Regions from separate parts of the Homo sapiens genome. Here region 2 is linked to region 1. Evidence: fine-mapped expression QTL. A gene starts in region 1. The other region holds a variant in brackets. All regions are shown on one strand. Distances are from middle to middle.

Region 1 (4,385 bases):
GTGGGAAGGAAAGGGGGAGGGAGGAGAGTGGAGCCAGCTGATGTGTGTCCCAGATGTTCCGTCTTTGGGCTTTTGGGCAAAGTGAGGGGGCCCTGGGAGGGACAGTCAGTGAGGTATGAGACTCTGGCTCTGGGGGACACTGCCTGGAAGGCTGCCCTCCACTGCCTGGGGCACTGTCCTATCAGCATCTGCTGGAGTGACTGCCAGTGAAGCCAGGCAGAGGCTCTTCCCTTCCCAGTGCGGCCTGGAGGAAAGCGAACAGGCCTGCCCTGGGTGCGAGGGGTGACAGGGTAAGGCGACCTCATAGCAAATGCCAGGGGTCAAGGGCTGGCCAGGGGTCAGAGGGATGGTGGGGCAGAGTCTCATGGCCCACAGCCAGCGAGATCCGGGTCGGCGATGGCGACACCGTTTACTTGCCAGACTTCAGGCACACCTGGGGAAAGGTGCACGGGGGCACCACCTTGGTGGCCAGTTGATGCCACCCAAGGACCAGCATAGGGCCAAAGATCACCCGAGGTCACCTGCCTCCTCCACAAAGATGCCGTCTTAGGCAGAGAAGGTGGTTGGGAGAAAGCTTTCATATTCAAATGAGATTCCTGTTATCCACCCATAGATAACCAGCTTAAAGCAGGGTAGGGCTAAAAGCTAATATTTTCCCCCAACCAGATAATCTGCTATAAACAAATAAATTGCATCTTCCAGCGGGGTTGCATTGTGAGATCCAGGACACAGGTGTTGTGGGGAGTTTTGACATGCAGGGAAGTGACCCCCACATGCAGCTGCAAAGTCCTTGGGGCTCCCCCAAGAAGGCGGGCCAGACACTTGGCAGGGACGAGGTGGGAGGCAGCTCACGGCTCGGGAATCTCCAGGGCATGGGCTCGCACAGGTGGGAAGCACCTGTGGGCGGCTCTCAAGCCCCCATCTCATTGGTGCCCACGGTGGGCGTCTCCCCACCTTCCAGCTCGGGCTCCTCGCGAAGCGCCTGTTGGAGCACAGTCCCCAGGGACCTGGTGGGCAGCCTGTGGCTCCTCCGGCTGCCCACCAGGAAGTAGATGACGGGGTTGGCGCTGCTGCTTACGGACGAGGAGAGGCGTGACAAGCTGAAGCACAGGACCTGCATCTCGGGCGGCAGGCTCAACCAGTAGAGCACAAACCAGTAGATGCTCAGAGGCAGGGAACAGATGAGGAACACCAGGACAGAGGCCAGGACCACCACGAACAGCCGTGTGGGCTGCCGCCGCCACTGCTGGGAGCTCCTCCGCACCCAGACAAAGAGGGTCAGGCTGGACAGAGTCATCACTGGGGTTAAGACCCCCATGATGAGGGCGGCCTGGACCATGTCCACCCTGAAGCACCGATCTTCATTGAATTTCAAGAACTTGCTGCAGAAGGAAGAGGTCAACCCGTTCATCAGGAGACAGAGTGTCCACAGCAGGCCACACACCCAGGCTGACAGGTGCCTGGGCCGGTGACACTTGAACCAGATAGGGAAGAGGACAGAGAGACAGCGCTGGGTGCTGATGGCCGTCAGCAGGCTCAGGCCCACTGTGTAGGCAAAGTACATCAGTCTCTTCATCAGCTCGTGGACCTTGTCAGTGGTATTGACCAGGGGCTGGGTTTCCAGGCTGAGCGTGGAAGCCATGCTGAAGAGGAAGAGGAGGTCGGCTGCCGCCAGGTTGAGGATATAGATGCAGAAGGGGTTCCTGTGCATTCGAAAGCCCAGCAGCCAGATCACCATGCTGTTGCCTGCCATCCCGCACAGGCAGGTGAACATGGCCAGGGAGCTCAGCACCAGGTAGGCCGTGTGCACTGTGCTCCCTCTGGAATAGTTTAGGGCTGACTCCACGGTCCCACTGCTATTCAAAGTCTGGTTCATCCCTACGAGAGGAAGATGTACCAATGTGAAATTCTGTGTTGCTGGGACCACGGGGGACCCCTGGGTGCCCCTCGAATTTCCAGCTTCAGAGCTCTCCCCTCCAGGTTCTTTATGTAACAGACCATGACCGGGAGGCTTAACCTTCCCCCACTCCTGTGACTCACTCAGCCCAGATCTGCCTCCAGGGTCACCTTTATAGCTACAAAGCTGTTATAAATACCCTTTATCAGGTTAAAAAATTCTCTTCTATCTTGCTTTGAATTATTTTTTAAATCATGGAGAGGTATTGAATTTTATCAAATGCTTTTTCTACATCTATTATAGAAAAATCATTATTATCAATAGATGTAGAAAAACTATTTGATAGAAACATTTGAAATCATTTTTTTTTTCTCCTGTAATTGTCAAACCCTGTGAGTTAATTAAAAAAACAATAGACCTTAGGGCTGGGCGTGGTGGTGCATGCCTGTAACCCCAGCACTTTGGGGTTTGCTTGAGGCCAGGAGTTTGAGACCAGCCTGGGCCACATAGCAAGATCTCATCTCTACAATTTTTTTTTTTAATTAGCCAGGCATGGTGGCACACACCTGTGGTCCCACCTACTTGAGAGGCCAAGGCGGGAGGATCGCTTGAGCCTGGCACATTGAGGTTGTAGTGAGCCATGGTCCCGCCACTGCACCCCAGCCTGGAAGACAGAGCGAGATGCTGTCTCTTAAAAAAAAAAAAAAATTAGACCTCAGGGCAAAGTGTAGAATTAACTACACTCCTTAGTTTAAGACACACCATGAGCATCAGCCCATTAAAAACCCTCCATTTATTCAAGTTTCCTTCCCCATCCCATCTTAGCTGCCTTTTTCCTCCTGCCGCTTGCATCCATCCAACCTGTTTCACGCAAATCCTTGGACACCTCAATATCTTTCAAGATGGAGTGGTTGCCCATTGTGTTTTAAATTTACGTAAATGTTGTGATTTAGAATTAATGATGGGTTTTTTATTTTTCACTTGACAATATGTTTGTAGGATATATCCAGGTGGCTGTATGCAAAAGTTGTGGTTTAAAATGTCATCATGCACATTGATCTGTTATCCATTCCTTACTGTGGATCCTCAGCTTGCTTCAAAATTCCCATTATCACCAAAACACTGTGTTGGACATCCTCATGCATGTACCCATTGGACTTGACTCAATATTTTTCTGGGATACATTCTTGGAGGAGGATTGCTCGGTCATAGAACATATGCACATTTAGTCTCACTAAATATTGCCTGGTAATTCTTTTTCTGAGTGGCTGCTTCAGGTTTCACCTGTACCAGCAGAATAGGAATGTTTACGTTTTCCCATTCTCTCACCAACACTTGGTGTTATTTGTTTTTCTAACTTTTGCCAACCTGATGGTTGCAAAGTGATATACTGTAGATGTTTTAACTTGCATTTCTGTGATTACAGTGAGTTTGAGCATCAATTCATATATCTGTTAGCCATTTGGAGTTCCCCTTCTTCAAATTGTCTGTTCACACCTGTTGTCCATTTTTCAATTGGGTTTCTTTTCTTTTCCTTTCTGATTTGCAAGAGTTGCTTGTATTTCTAGGTATTAATGCCTTCCTGGATTTAGACATTGCAGATACTTTTCTCTGAGAACGCTCTGTTTTTTATGGCAACTTTATCTATTGTGAACTTTGGTTGGAAGACATCCTAAATTTTGGTATAGCCAACTCTTCAGAATTTTTTTCTCTGAAATTTTGTGTCTTCTAAATCTGAAAGTATTCTGTCTCCCTGGATAAAAAATGTAGTCTTTTCTATTTTCTTCTATTACTTTTATAGTTTTTCCCATTCAGATTTTGTTCTTGGATCCAACTGGAATCTATTTTTTATGAGCTTGATTTTTCCTCCATAGTATGGATCAGCTTTCCTAACACTGTCTCCTAAACAGTCTGTCCTTTCCCTATTGACTTATTAAGTTCTCATTTACACATGGGACTGGGTTTTTAATTTCATTCTTCATTCTGTGTCATTGGTTTGTCTCTCAGTTCCTACAACATTAACACAGTGTTTTGTTTTGTTTTTTTTTTTAAATATGTCTTTCTGCTATGTCATTTTATTTTATGAGATGCATGTCCCTTCTTTAACTTTGTTTGCCAAAATTGAATTAGCCATTTGTGAATCTTTATTCTTCCTTAAAATTTTAGAGCAAATTTTTGGAATTCCTAAAAGAAAGAAACTCTCAAGTTTTCAGTAGAAGCTCATAGAACTTGCAGAATATTGTATTAGAGAATTGTCACATTCACAATGTTAAGTCATTATGTCCATAGTCTGAAATGTCTCTCTGTTCTCAAATCCTTTCTTACATCCTGTAAAATAATTAATAATAACATTGAATTTTTTTTTTTTTTTTTGAGATGGAGTCTAACTCTTTTTGCCCATGCTGGAGTGCAGTGGCACGATCTTGGCTCACTGCAACCTCCAGCTCCTGGTTTTAAGTGATTCTCCTGCCTCAGCTTCCTGAGTAGA
Region 2 (4,385 bases), 24 kb after region 1:
GACCTGACCAGGATTGTTAGAAAGGGGAGCATGGAGGAGCAGTGGGCTGAGGAGCAGGGGCAGGAGGGCAGTGGAGGTCAGGTTGGCCGGGCAGTGGATCATCAGGGACACAGAACTGGGGGGTCAGCCCACTGAGGGCTGGACCACTTCACCAGGGGCAGGCTGAGCAGGCTCCAGGGCCTGCAGTTAGAAGGCCACGTTCCAGGTGGCTGGGTGCGTGAACCTGGTGGTACTGCCCACGCCTCTACTCATTCCCACCTGGAGCTCGGAGTGCTGCCCGCCTGCCTGCTCCTGGCTCTGCTCTGCAGACGAGGGGCCCAACTCTGTCAGCCACGTTTCCTGACTGGGGGCACCAACACCTCTGCCATGATCTCTCTCCATGGGACCATGGGGTGAGCAGGCTTGCCTTAAGGCTTGTCTCAAAGGAGCCAGGGTCCTAGGTTGCACACCAGGAACCCAGGATGGGGCCCTTCTGGGGGCTGACCAGAGGCAAAAGGGCCAGGCAGGAACCCTTCTAGCGTGGCGCTGGCTGGGCTGTCATCTTGGGAGGGCTCCCAGCCTATCGCTGGGTTGTAGAGAGATGTCTGGGCACTGGGAGGCTGGCTCAGGGATCTCAAGACAGAGAGGGGCATCCTGAACGGGGGCAACAGGAGGAGAGGCAGCAATCCACTCCACGGAGCCTCCGGTGGACACAGGCAGGACCATGGTGGCCGGCCCAGAGCCTGGCATGGAGGAGGTGAGAGCTGTGGCTCCCAGAGGCCGTGGGGGCCTCCGAGCTGAGAAGGGGCACTGGGATACGCCGGCACAGGACAGCCTGGCTGACCACGGCTCCCTCTGGCAGGGAGTGGACAAGCCACAGGAGCGGGAACACGGGTGTGTGCAGACCCAGCCCCAGGAGGAGGCCTGAGAGCAGAGGCAAAGAGCAAAGTGTGCGGGAGAGCTGGCGGGGGGTGCCACCCGTCCCGGGACTCTGTGCCCTTGGGCGTCCTCACTGTCGGAAACAGAGACCCAGGGTAGGACTGTGGGCATGAAGCCTTCCTGGCTGCAAGTTATAAAATGTTTATTGATATACATTTTGTCTTTTATAAAACTTCCGTTGGCCACATTGGGCCACTGTGCACCACAGTGCCAGTCCCCAGGTGGCCAGGGCGGAGCCAGTGTCCACTTTCGGGTGGGGGCTGGAGCCAAGAGGCTGTCCAGGAGCTGCCCAGTGGGTCCTCATGGCCTGCGGGATACCTCAAGTGCTCCCGGAGGCAGCCTAGGACTGGCTCGTCCCGGAGTCAGAAAAGGCAGGTCAACTACCCAAGGCGGCCAAAGGCCCTTCCTGTCTCCAGAGCCTTGACATAACCAGAAATCCCCCCATCAAAGTCACCAAATGACTCGACGGGGGGAAGGGAGGTTGTTTGCAGAAAGACTTAGCTACAAGGCATGTGAACCAGAACTTTCTTCCAGACACCATTTCCTTCACATTTGCTCACTGATAATGCCTTAAGAGGATCGAATCTCTGGAACAGCCCTGAATGGCAGGGATGAGGCTGCTGGCCTGGTGCTGGCTGGGACACAGTCAAGGAGGGCTGACCCAAGAGGCAGAGGTGGCTAGGCTGGGTGTTGACCTCCTCTCTTTTACCAACCAGCCTAGGGCAAGGAGGGGCCCCACCACCTGGGGGCAACTTCTGTACAAGAGGTCTCTAGGGGAGCAGAATGGGTGGGGGAGCCGGGCAGGGGCCACAGGGTCTGTTTGCTGGTGGCTGCCCAGTCTCCCAGCCACCCCTGGAGTCCCCAGCCCAGGGAGAAGGAGGCCCGAGGAGAGGAAACAGATCTTTCTTCTCCTGTATGGACTCAGAAGCAGGTGCCCATTCCTGTCCCAAGGCGAAGGGTCTTGGAGGCCGCTTCCTGCCCCTGCCTCCTCCAGGCGCTGGAGTCTCAGGAGGCGTTCCCCGGGGGACACTGCATCTCCATGGTGACTGTGTTGGGCGTGCTGCCCCCGGCCTCCCCCAGCTCAGCGCCGTCCCGCAGGGCCCGCTGGAAGACCACCCTGAGCGGCTCCCACAGCCGCTGCGACTTGTCCCTCCCGGCCAGGAAGTAGACGATGGGCTTGGCGCTGCTGTTGATGCAGATGCACAGGTCAGTGACGTACTCGGGGAAGGGGGCCGGGATCTGGAAGACCCAGAAGAGGAACCAGTCGATCCCTAAGTAGATGGAGGACACCAGGAAGACGGAGACCATGGCCAGGATGACGTGGTTGAGCTTGGCAGAGCGCTGGCGCCGTCGGGCCCGGCACTCCACGTGCAGGATGAGGGCCAGGCAGGGCAGCACCATGAGCGGGCAGCAGAGCAGGAACAGGAGGATGCCCAGGAAGATGTCCATGTGCCTGCAGGCCGCGCCGGGGGCCCCGCGGCCCAGGAACACGCAGAAGTAGTTGTGCAGGCAGGTGACCAGGAGGGACAGGACCCACAGCAGGGCGCACACCACGGCCGACAGGCGCTTGGGCCGCCGGCGCCAGTACCAGGCGGGGAAGATGACCGAGGCGCAGCGCTCGGCGCTGACGGCCGGCAGGAGGCTCACGCCGGTAAGGAACAT[G/A]CAGAGCCCCAGGACCCGGCACACGCTGCGGATGTAGTCGGCAAACGTGCCCAGGAAGCCCCCCGTGTTCAGGATGGAGAACACCGCCTTGCTGAAGAGGTAGCCCACATCGGCGCTGGCCAGGTGCAGGAAGTAGATGGAGAAGGGGTTCCTCTTGATGGAGAAGCCGAAAAACCAGAGGACCAGCCCGTTGCCCACCAGGCCACACAGGCAGAGGAGCAGGAAGATGTAGTTCATGACGGCCGGAGGCGGCAGCATCGCGATCTGCTCGATGGTCAGGAAGCCCCGGCTGTAGAGTTCCGGGGCCTCGCTCAGGCCAGGGCACATCTGCGCAGGTGCAGAGAGGGACACCTGTGATGCCGGCTGGCCCCCACCCACAGACCTGCATCTGGGGCCCAGCGTGGGGGAGGGGGGGGGTCCCAATTAGGGACTTGGGGCAGGGAGGGGGTCTGTAAGGCAGTGGCTGTGGAGCAGCTAACTGGCTGCAACTCTATCCTCAAACGCCCCTGACCTCACCTGATGTTAACTCTCCGTCCCAGCGTCTAGAGCTAGCAGCACACAATGGTGCCTATAGGAGTAGAGGTAGCACCAGACAGTGCCCAGGAAGGGTGCCAGGCTGCCCACCGGTCAGAGTAGACTGTCCAAAAAACGTCCAAGTCGCACAAAAAACTGCAGAGCCTTTCCCTTTTTTTTTTTTTTTTTTTTTGAGACAGAGTCTCACTCTGTCACCAGGCTGGAGCGTGCAGTGGCACGATCTCGGCTCACTGCAACCTCTGCCTCCCAGGTTCAAGCGATTCTCCTGCCTCAGCCTCCTGAGTAGCTGGGACTACGGGCACGCGGCACCATGCCCGGCTAATTTTTGTATTTTCAGTAGAGACGGGGCTTCGCCGTGTTGGCCAGGATGGTCTCGAACTCCTGACCTCAAGTGATCCACCTGCCTCCCAAAGTGCTGGGATTATAGACGTGAGTCACTGCGCCTGGCTGAGCCTTTCCATTTTTAAGAAGAGCAAAGAGACATGACTCCTAAACACAGTGTTAGAATCCTGGATTATACGCTGGATCTCAACAACTGCTGCAGAGGATATCGTTGGGACCACTGGGGAAATGTGAGTATGGACGATGCAGAGATAATGGCATTGCATCGGTGTTGCAGCTTTTGAATGTGACAATGTACTGTGGCTACGCACATTTTCACTATGTGGCTACGGGAACGTCCTTGTTCTTAGAAGATACAGGCTATTTGGGCATCAAGGGCTTGGTGTCTGCAATTTACTTTTGTTTGTTTGTTTGTTTTTGAGACAGAGTCTTGCTTTGTCAGGCTAGAGTGCAGTGGCCCGATCTTGGCTCACTACAGCCTCCGCCTCCCAGGTTCAAGCAATTCTCCTGCCTCAGGCTCCCGAGTAGCTGGGACTACAGGCACGCACCGCCATGCCTGACTAATTTTTGTATTTTTAGTAGAGATGGGGTTTCACCATGTTGGCCGGACTGGTCTCGATCTCTTGACCTCAGGTGATCCGCCCATCTTGGCCTCCCAAAGTGCTGGGATTAGAGGCGTGAGCCACCGCACCCAGCCTTGCAATTTACTTTCAAATCATTCTGGGAAAAAAAGCCTATCTGTCAAGAGATAGAGAGAAAGCACTTGTGGTGAAGGGTTAACGATGACTGAGCTGAGGTGAGGTATTGGCGGGCATTGTACTATTCTTGCAAAATCTTGCAATGTTTCAACAAACACGAAACTATTTGAAGAAATAAAATCACTTGTAAGTTACATTTAAAAAAAAACAACGAGTGGATCTCGGCCTTCC

Which allele goes with the higher level. Alleles are on the strand shown, and positions count from the first base shown. SD is a standard deviation of normalised expression in the study named.
For the expression in esophagus muscle of the gene that starts at base 1,876 in region 1, A is the low allele of the variant in region 2 and G is the other (moderate effect, 0.60 SD a copy in GTEx).

The links. PIP is the estimated chance that this variant, and not a neighbour inherited with it, causes the effect.
Region 2: its variant is the best candidate, but not a certain one, in a credible set for the expression of MRGPRD in esophagus muscle (GTEx, PIP 0.83).

Annotation. Positions count from the first base shown.
Region 1 is chr11:68,979,111-68,983,495 of GRCh38, forward strand. MRGPRD (MAS related GPR family member D) reads right to left here and starts at 1,876. Exons shown (of 1, transcript NM_198923.2): 1 at 911-1,876. The coding sequence starts at 1,876. The coding sequence ends at 911. RefSeq lists an enhancer at 856-1,365.
Region 2 is chr11:69,003,355-69,007,739 of GRCh38, forward strand. MRGPRF (MAS related GPR family member F) reads right to left here. Exons shown (of 3, transcript NM_145015.5): 3 at 1,044-2,907. The coding sequence ends at 1,924. Among named protein-coding and RNA genes, the nearest start is that of MRGPRF-AS1, 6.8 kb to the right of the region's middle. RefSeq lists enhancers at 517-1,018, 4,265-4,385. The variant G/A (reference allele first, on the strand shown) is at 2,581.